Linked DNA regions of Homo sapiens: region 1 is linked to region 2. Evidence: fine-mapped expression QTL. A gene starts in region 2. The other region holds a variant in brackets. All regions are shown on one strand. Distances are from middle to middle. Region 1 overlaps CES5A (carboxylesterase 5A). Region 2 holds the start of CES1 (carboxylesterase 1).

Evidence for each region. PIP is the estimated chance that this variant, and not a neighbour inherited with it, causes the effect.
Region 1: its variant is the best candidate, but not a certain one, in a credible set for the expression of CES1 in whole blood (TOPMed, PIP 0.52).

Annotation. Positions count from the first base shown.
Region 1 is chr16:55,858,738-55,863,737 of GRCh38, reverse strand. It overlaps CES5A (carboxylesterase 5A), which reads left to right. Exons shown (of 13, transcript NM_001143685.2): 6 at 286-390; 7 at 2,222-2,326; 8 at 4,051-4,191. Among named protein-coding and RNA genes, the nearest start is that of CES5A, 14 kb to the left of the region's middle. The variant T/C (reference allele first, on the strand shown) is at 2,565.
Region 2 is chr16:55,830,335-55,835,334 of GRCh38, reverse strand. CES1 (carboxylesterase 1) reads left to right here and starts at 2,239. Exons shown (of 14, transcript NM_001025195.2): 1 at 2,239-2,331. The coding sequence starts at 2,280.

The sequences.
Region 1 (5,000 bases), 28 kb before region 2:
TTAAGCAACTTGTCCGAGGTTACCTAGGTAGAAAGTGAAGGAGCTAGAAATCACATGCCTGAACATTTGACATCAAAGTCCATGAAGAACCAGGGGCTCAGAGAGGTTGAGTAACTTGCCCAAACCTTCACAGCTAGTCCTTTAACCCCTAAACCAGGGCTTTTTTCCCCTCTAAGCTTAGAGCTTTTAAGGAGGCTTCCTGGGAAGGTTTCTTTGAAGAGGGATGAATGGTATGTGTGTTGGTGGGGAGTAACCTTTCCTGGGTCTTCTGTGTTCTCTCTCCAGATACTGTCTCCCATGGCCAAAGGCTTATTCCACAAAGCCATCATGGAGAGTGGGGTGGCCATCATCCCTTACCTGGAGGCCCATGATTATGAGAAGAGTGAGGACGTACGTATACTGTTAACACCTTGCCACCTTCCTCTCCTCAGTTAGCAGAGAATGTGGTCAGGCACCTTCTCACCATGTGTTTGGCTTTCCTTAGTGACCATGCCCAAGGCACCTCATGCTGGCCCAAGGTGAACCTTGTTCCTCCGTGAAAGGTCTGGTTCAACAGGAAATGGGTCTAGCTACACAATGCCACACCACTGGTGTGCACAAGTGTGTGTGTATGTGCGTTATGGTTCTTATGTCTTACCCGTTATTCTTTGCTTGTGATAGATAAGTCAGTCCCCTGTATTCTATACAGTTCTTCTGTGCCTACGCTACTCTACTGGGAATGAATACCCAGGGCATTATGTTAAGAAAGATTCAGAGGCTGTTTCCAGCTCAGTGGGAAATAATGCTGTGACTGATTCACGTTGTCTGGCATGGGATTATAAGGGGCATCTATCCCACGATATTTGTCATCTGTCTCTTGTCTTAATTATCTACTAGATAGTGATGCCCTAGAGACCAGGATCTCTCTGTCCTTCAGGCCCCCAGCATAATACCTGGTATATATCAGGCAGCCATAAGTGTTCCGGATGAATGAGTTAATGAATGAGCTGTTTCATTCAATGCATATTAATTAAGCACTGGGCTGTGCAGCCATCTCTTGAGTATAAATCATTTTTGTGGTAAATTTTCTTAAACATCTTACAGAAAATAACAGTATATACCAAGAGCAGAAACATAGAGTTATGCAATTTAAAAAAATTCCCTCAATACACAGAAATATTGATTTTGGTAACATTCTCCATAAAGCTATTTTCAGTTTGGGCATATATTTATTCATTTGACACACATCACTGAGTGCCCACTATTTTCCCTGCTCTGTTAGAACTTTGGGATTTATCAGTGGAGAAAGCACATCCTAAATTTGAGGGCAATATAATCTTTTTATCACCTATCCATGGATAGGATTAAATCCTGCAATCCATGGATAGGTTTGGGAAGCGGTTCCACAACTGTACCAGACTCCACATGCTTGCACGTTTTCCCAGGGAGAGGGTCTGTAACTTTGACTGGATTCTCAGAGTATCCATGACTCCCAGAAGATTAAGAACCACCACTTTCAGGGAGTGAGTTCTACAAATATGGAGGTTCAGTGACAAGGAAAGCAGATGTTCAGCAATGGGCCAGGCATGGAAGGTGGGGAACATCGAGCTTATAGGAGATTGGATGAGGAAGGGGTTTCTGGGGGCTGCAATGCCCTGAAAGGACATCGTGGAGGGAAGGAGTTGGGCCTTAAAGAATGAAAAGGATTGGTATAGAGGCAGGGAAAAAGACAGGTAGGACATTCCAGGCTGTGAGTGGGCCTGGGGCTTGGGCAGGGCTGACAAGCTGAGAATCTGATCTGGAGTCCTGCCTGTACTGACAATGAAGGAGCTTCCAAAGCTGCTCCTCACTCTTGGTGTTTGTCTTCATTCAGCACCTCAAGGTTGGGCTTCTAGACTCCAGAGGGGCAAAATACCAATGCAGCCAAGCTCACAGGACTGATCTCTTTGTGACCAGGAATCTTGATTCCATTCCACAGCCACAGACTGACAAACTCCCATCTCCAGCTGTGGTGTTTACTAAAGATGACAAGGAGAGCCAGGCAAGAGACTGAGGGTGATGCAGTGGGAAACTGTCCACCATGTGCACCTTCAATTATAGGGGTGTGGGTCTAGGCAGTGTTAGCAGGATGGACTCATATATGGAGGGCCAGCCTGTGGCTGATTGGAGGGCATTTTCAAGCTTTCATTTTCCTAGATGCTTTCAATATCATGCTCTAACCCGGTCCTTCTCTACAAAATAGCTGCAGGTGGTTGCACATTTCTGTGGTAACAATGCGTCAGACTCTGAGGCCCTGCTGAGGTGCCTGAGGACAAAACCCTCCAAGGAGCTGCTGACCCTCAGCCAGGTGAGGACAGAGGGGGCAGTTTTGGGGGCAGGCTTGCCCTTCGAACGGAGAGATGAACAAATCCTACCCCTCTGTTATTTATTTGAATTTGGAACATAGAAAAGAGGAGGATTGAGGTACTTGGTAACAGCTGTAAAAAAATAAGTAGGGATATAGAACCCTTGTAGGTAATTTAAGAAAATTGTTGGGGCAGGGGTTCAACTTAGCCTGGAGAAGATTCAGCAAAGTACAAGGCTTG[T/C]CTCTAAGTCCCTGAAAGCATCTCACTGGAGAGAAGGACCACACTTGTTATGCATGCTTCCAGAAGCTGAAGTCAAAATCAGGAGCTGGAAGTTCTATTAGGAAGTCATTTTAGTTTTGTGTAACTGAAAACCTTCCAAGACCTCAGTTGTCTGGAAAAGGACTGGGCTCCTTTAGAAGGTAGTGAGATGCCCACCTCTCCAGGTATTCAAGCAAAATCTAGCTGACTGCTGACAAACTTTCAATCAGTGACAGTTAATTGGACCGGGTGATCTTTTATGTCCCTTCCAATCTTGAGAGCCTTTGATGACAGTCTTTGAATGGACAAGATCATTATCTTTCAGATTTCAATATTTGCTAGTTATGTGGTGTGTACTGAATGTCCACTCTGAGCCATGCTAGACTCAGTGAAATGGATAATAAGTCCTGGACCTGATGTGTCGAACTCTTCCATGTGCTCCTTTCTACCCAAATCTCAAAACAGAAACCTAAAGAAACCATGACTAGGGCTGAGTGTTGCTTTCTGAGACCCAAAAAATATCCAGGCATGTCCAAGGCACTGTGTCTCAGGGAGACACCTACAGTCTCCTACAACCCCTACAGTCCTGACCACTTCATCTACCACCATTTTTCCCTTTGCATTTGGCCAGTGGTTCTCAAACTTAAACATGCATCAGGATCACCTGGAGGACCAGCTACAAGAAGGTTCCTGGGCTATACACCCCAACCCCAGAGTTTCTTATTGAGGAGCCTGAAGTGGGCCTGGAATGTGCATTTATAACAAGTTCCCAGATGATGCTGATGCTGCTGGTCTAGGAACCACACTTTGAGAATCTCTGGGCTAGGCTATATTAGTCTCTTCTCATGCTGCTAATAAAGACATACCTGAGACTGGGTAATTTATAAAGGAAAGAGGTTTAATAAACTCACAGTTCCACATGGCTGGGGAGGTCTCACAATCATGGTAGAGGGTGAAGGAAGAGCAAAGGCACATCTTACATGGTGGTGGGCAAAAAAAAAGCTTGTTCAGGGGAGCTCCCCTTTATAAAACCATCAGATCTCATGAGATTTATTCACTATCATGCAAATAGCATGGGAAAGACCTGCCCCCATGATTCAATTACCTCTCACCAGGTCCCTGCCACAACATGTGGGAATTATGGGAGCTATAATTTGAGATTTGGGTGGGGACACAGCCAAACCATATAACAGGCCACTGTTTTTCTTGGTAGATATTATTATTATTCCCATTTAGCAGATGAGAAAATAAGGCACAGACAAGTTTAGCCCCCTCACCCAAGTACATGGCAGAGCTTCCAGGGACTGATATATTGAGCTGGGCCCATAGTGTTTGTTTTTACTTTTTAAGTGCATTTAAGCCAGTGCTAGACTGGGTTGGCTTTTCTTGGCCAGGATTTGGGACAGCAGATTTTGTGAACAGAAATAGCTGATGATAGCTGATGATTTTTTTTTCTTCCTTATTACAGAAAACAAAGTCTTTCACTCGAGTGGTTGATGGTGCTTTCTTTCCTAATGAGCCTCTAGATCTATTGTCTCAGAAAGCATTTAAAGCAATTCCTTCCATCATCGGAGTCAATAACCACGAGTGTGGCTTCCTGCTGCCTATGGTAAGAATTCTGGCTGTCCATACTGCCACTCCCTCAAACCGTGATGCAGCTTTGGCTTCAACAGCTGGGCATTTCCACAGAAGACATCAGGTATTGTAAGTGCTGGAGCCCACCAGCCAAGCACACAGTGATCACCTTTACTCTCTCTGAAAGAGGGCAAGTGAGGACCGGGACAGTCACAGCAAGTGTCTGCCTTGCTTCTCATGTAATGAGGTTTAGGGCGGAAGAAACAACTGTATAAAAAGGAAAGAGGGGATCGGTCCATTTGGTCTTTGTTCAAACAGTATTATAAATGATTGTTTCCAAAAAATGCAGTTACCACTTCAGAGCTGACATTCAGATAGGTTTGAAAAACTTCAGTCCTTCAAATTTTTCACATCCAGCCTTGGTTCTGGCATTTTGACATCCCTGAATGCTAAGGTTGCATAAGCTGCAAAATTGTTAAATCATTTTATTTTTTCAACAAGTATGTACTGAGCATTTATTAGAGGCTTACAAAAACTGAGCATATGAGCTTTCTGGGAGCTTACACTCTGGTGGGGAGAGACAGATAAGACACGAGATTGAGAAGATGATTTCAGAGAGTGATAGATATATGAAGGACACAAGTGAGGAGAGAAGGTATCTTTAGGGAGGATAACAGGTGGTCAGGAAACGCTCTTCTAGGGAGTGATTGTTGAGCTGAGGCCCAGGTGCTGGGAAAGACCCATGATTTTTTGATTCCGTGGCATAGGAAGACTCTCTTCATTGGAAATAAACTTTTCATCTGTCCTCAGAGGAGTGGAGACTTCAAATTCCTAATACTGTTG
Region 2 (5,000 bases):
TTCCTGATGTATAAAAGCAAGAGAAATGGCTGCCAGCCACCCTGTGCTGGAAGGCAGAAGCCTCAAGTTCTGGTTCTGACTTTGCCATTGAGTTGCTGTGTGACCTTAGGCAATCCCTCCTCATCTCTGGGCCTTAGTTTCTTTTGGGAATAAATAACGGAATTGAGTTGAGCCTATGTATTAGTCTACTTAGGCTGCCAGAAGAAAATATCACAGACTGGGTGGCTTAAACAACAGAAATCAATTTAAGATCGTGAGACAGCATTAATCTCACGGGGTTATTTTGAGAACTGAGATCCTGCATACAAAACTCTCGGCATAGTGTTTGCCACACAGTAAGCTCTCAGTAAATATTTGTCAATGAATGTATGAAGGAATAAAAGTGGAAAATGCAAATAAGTGAAACACTGACAAGATTACAGCCAGGAAATGGCTGTTGTAATTCTAATTAGATATATAGACTTCCAGTATTTTCCTATGCAAATAAAGACATATGTTACTACCAAAACGGGACCATATTATACCTATCTAGATTTTCAAAAATATTTCATTATTTTATTGAAATATAAGTCACATGTCATAAAGTTTACCTTTTTAAAGTGTACAATCTAGTGGTGTTTAGTATATTCCCAAAGTTGCACTAACATCATCACTATTTAATCCCAGGACATTTTTACCACCCCCAAGATAAAACTCATGCCCATTAGCAGTCACTCCTCATCCCCGTCTCTTTCCCCTTCCCCAGACCCTGTCAAACACTTTCTGTCTCCATGGATTTGACTATTTTGGAAATTACATATAAAAAGCATCATACGACATGTGGCCTTTTGTGGCTGGCTTCTTTCCTTTACCATGATGTTTTCCAGCTTCATCCACGTTGTAGCATGTTCTTCTTATGGCTGGATGATATGCCTCTGCACGCATACACCACACTTCATTTACACATTCATCAGGTCATGGACATGCGGGTTGTGCCCACTTTTTGACTAGGATGAATGACACTGCTCTTTGTGTACAAGCTTTTGTGTGGACATGCTTTCAGTTCTCTTCGGTAGACACCTAGGAGGGGAATTGCTGGGTCATATGGAAACTCTGTGTTGAACTTTTTGAGGAACTGCCTACACCGCACAACAGTTTATAACCTATTATTTTCTCCTTTCACAACGCATCCTGTCTTCATTGTTAATAAATAGCTGTGCACATCACTATTTTGAGTGAATACATCGTATTTCCTTAGCCAGCGGTACCACAGTGTGTTTAGTGAATTCCCTATTGTTGGACATTTAATAATCCCATGAAAGAGGCTTTGAGTGACTTCCTTGTGTCCCCAGCAGCTTGTAAATGACAGTTTTCCAGGTGTGCCCAGAGCACTCTGTATCCCCTTAATTTGGTGATTTCACATTGCCTTGACATCACCCCTACTGCTCCTCCACCCCATCTGTCTTGTCTACAATGGTGAGCCCCTTGAGAAGCTGAACCATGTCTTGAATTGGTCTTTGTATCCATTATACATGGCCAGGTGCCAAGCATTTTGGTAAATGTTCACAAAATGGATGGGTACTTGGATGGATGGATGATAACAGCCAGGGACTATGGGGGGACGGAGTTCATTTTTACATTCTGTCCAAAAATCCCTGCTTTGGAAAGTAGTGAGTTCTCTGACACCGATGGTGTGTGACAGGAGGCTGGACCAGTTGGCAGGATATTGTGAAGCTAATTCAGGCCTCAGAAAGGGGACTCGATGAAATTTAAGATCGCTTCCAAGCTTGAGAGCCTGGAAAGCTATGAAAACACAAGCCCTGGGAGCTGAGATATGTCCTAACTTACCCAGCTGAGCTGTGAGGTGTGAGTGGCTCTAACATTTTCCAGTTGTTTCTGAGGACCTCAGATCAAAGCTTCCCTTTGCCTAAAAGCATCTGCCTGCTGGTGTGGGCCCTTGGGGGCCGTCACAGTGCACTGAGGTTAGAGTCCTGCAAGGGTGAACCCTTATGTAACAAGTAGTTGGGCAAGTTTACAGCTCTCTGTAATCTGACAGTAGAGTCCAGACTGGTTTGATGAAAGAGGGTAAACTGTGGGTGGGCGTGGCCTGAGGCCCCACTAGAAGCCCAGGGAGATCTGAGGAAAGGGAGGGCTTTTCTGATCTCTCCCAATTAGAGGATTAGGCAATTGGCAGCGCAGGGCGGTAACTCTGGGCGGGGCTGGGCTCCAGGGCTGGACAGCACAGTCCCTCTGAACTGCACAGAGACCTCGCAGGCCCCGAGAACTGTCGCCCTTCCACGATGTGGCTCCGTGCCTTTATCCTGGCCACTCTCTCTGCTTCCGCGGCTTGGGGTGAGTCCTTCTGAAATCAAAATGCGGGGCACTTTTTGAAATCCTTGTTCTGGGCCGAGGTGGGCGCAGATGCGTAGAAAGGCAAAGACACAACAGGTCCGGCTCTGCGGCGGGGCACGACTTCCATATTAGGACTTGGACTTGGAGCAGCTGAGCCCGGCCAGCCTGGCCCGCGCGGAGACGCAGGGAGGGTGAACATCCTGAGATCGCCCTGTACTGCTCGCCCAAATGCAGGCCGACAGCCGGCCCACCTCAGGCCGCACACACGAGAAATTTAGGCAGCTCAGTTTGCTGTCCCTTAATTAGTCCCCTTACGGCTGGATCACGGAGAGCGGCTCAACATAATATTAAGAGCATCGACTCTGGAGCCAGAGTGCGTGGGTTCGAGTCCCCGCTGGGCGCTTCCTCGCTGTGTGTCCTTAGGCAAGGGACTGCGCTATTCCGTGCTTGGGTTACCCCCTCTCTGAAACAGAGGTGGCAGTGCTGCCTACCTCACTGGGCTTTGGTGAGGAGGAAATGGGTGGCTGTTTCTAAAGCACTCTTGGCAGCGCCTGGTATGTAGAAAGCACGAAAAAGGGATGGATAAATAAAGGCGCTGTTTAAAAACGTAGTGTATGAATAGAAAATTTGAGCTGTGGTCAGGCCACTATATCAGGACCTCTTGCCATTAAAAAGACAGTTTCTTACTCATGTTCTCAACAGGAGGGGGACACCAGTGCGCGGGGCACAAGGGGAAGCAGCAGAGCCTGGGGAGGGGACAGGGCGGATCTGAGGCCAAGGGGCTTTTACTGTGGCTTCCAAGGATAGAAGAGGAAAGGCAGGGCAGGCAGGCTGAGGACTGGCAAGTTGGGATACTTCAGGGGCTCTGGGGCACAGGGGCTGTTCCTAATTGTTTTGTACCTAGCCCTGGCATGATTAGGGCAGGTGGGTAGTGGCCAGGGCATGGCAACCCGATCAAAGAGGCAGTTGGGGTGTGGGCTCTGGGGTGGCTGGACCCTGGGAGGGAGTTTCTCCAAGGTCAACAAGGCCTCAGATGCCAGAGCATCAGAATACAGAAAGCAAAACACATGGTACATAGAGGGGTGCAGCGAGGGGCCTCGAAATACCCCCATGCCATTTTATAGACAGAGAAACTGAGACTCACACAGGGAAATGTACTTGCCCAGGGTCAACCCGAAAATCACGCCTAGGTCTGTCTCTGGGTCCTGAATCCTGACAGCCCAGCCCCGTCTGCATCCTGTCTTCCTTCTGGCAGCCTGACACTGCGAGAGCTCTGGAACTGTGGGGAAGGGCAGAGAAGAGAGGAAGCCTATTTGGAACTGAATGTTCCTTTACCTCTGGTTACTCCTGGCAATGCCATCCATTTCCTTCCTTAGGAAGACCATACAGGCTGCCTCCACTTCCTCAGTTTCCTCCTCTGTAAAATGGGCATGTTGATGCCTACCCAGCAAGGCTTATTTGAAGATTAATTTAAAAAACTGGAATGCATGCCTGGCACATAGTAGGTGCCCACCATGTTCGTGCTTCATATAACATCAGCAGCAACTGGTCTTGTTCTCACACTTGTTTCTGCCTCCCCCCATTCACCCACTTTTTCACCCTTGGCAATCTGGCTGCCATCCACCTCATCCTGTTGAAGGGAATCCCTGAGCTGAGCATGACCAGCCCAGTGGTTTCTTCTCTGACTTGACTCTCCTCCACCTCCCTGAAGTCCTCAGCACTCTTAGCTGGTTCCTCGCCCTCTTGCTCCCTGGGCTTCAAAGACATGGGAACGTTCTCTCTCCCCTATTCTGATGGATCTTTGGTCTTGGCCGTAGTGGTCCCTGTGTTTGACCTTTGTTTTTTTTTCTCTTCCCTCTCACACTGGCATCTTCAATGAAGCCATACACATCCACCGTATGTACCCTCACAGTCCAGGAGAAGATTCTGCCCTGCTCCCTCACCAGGCTTCCTTCCAGCTTTGAAGTGCGCTCATCCTGTGGCATCATCTTGCCTGGATATCCCACTCACATCTCCACCGAGCCTGTGTAAACAGGGATCCAGCATTACAAGCCAGCTCTTTGGTCTTCTTTCCCTTCCATTTCCCCCACCTCTGGTCAGGGACCAAGTCTTTTCTTTTCCTTTCTTTTCTTTCCCTCCCTCCCTCACTCCCACTTGCCTGCCTGCCTGCCTGCCTGCCTGCCTTCCTTCCTTCCTTCCTTCCTTCCTTCCTTCCTTCCTTCCTTCCTTCTTTCCTTCCTTCCTTCTTTCCTTCCTTCCTTCCATCCTTCCATCTTTCCTTTCCTTCTTTCCTTCTTCTCTCTCTCTGGAGGAGCCAGGATTACAGGCACATGCTACCACACCCAGCTAATTTTTCTATTTTCAGTAGAGAGGGGGTTTCACCATGTTGGCCAGGCTGGTCTTGAACTCCTGACCTCAAATGATCTGCCTGCCTTGGCCTCCCAAAGTGCTGGGATTACAGGTGATCCACTGTGCCTGGTCTCCAAGTCTTTCAAAATACCTTTTAGACATCATCATATTTCTACATATTTTTTCTTTTTTTATTTAAAATTTTAAAATAATTAAGATGGGGGGGAGGATTTCAGGTGAAGACCGGAAATCCCATACAGTGCTGAAAAGGTGGAAATCACCAAGAAAACAGGCCACATGTAATGCCACCACCCATTGCT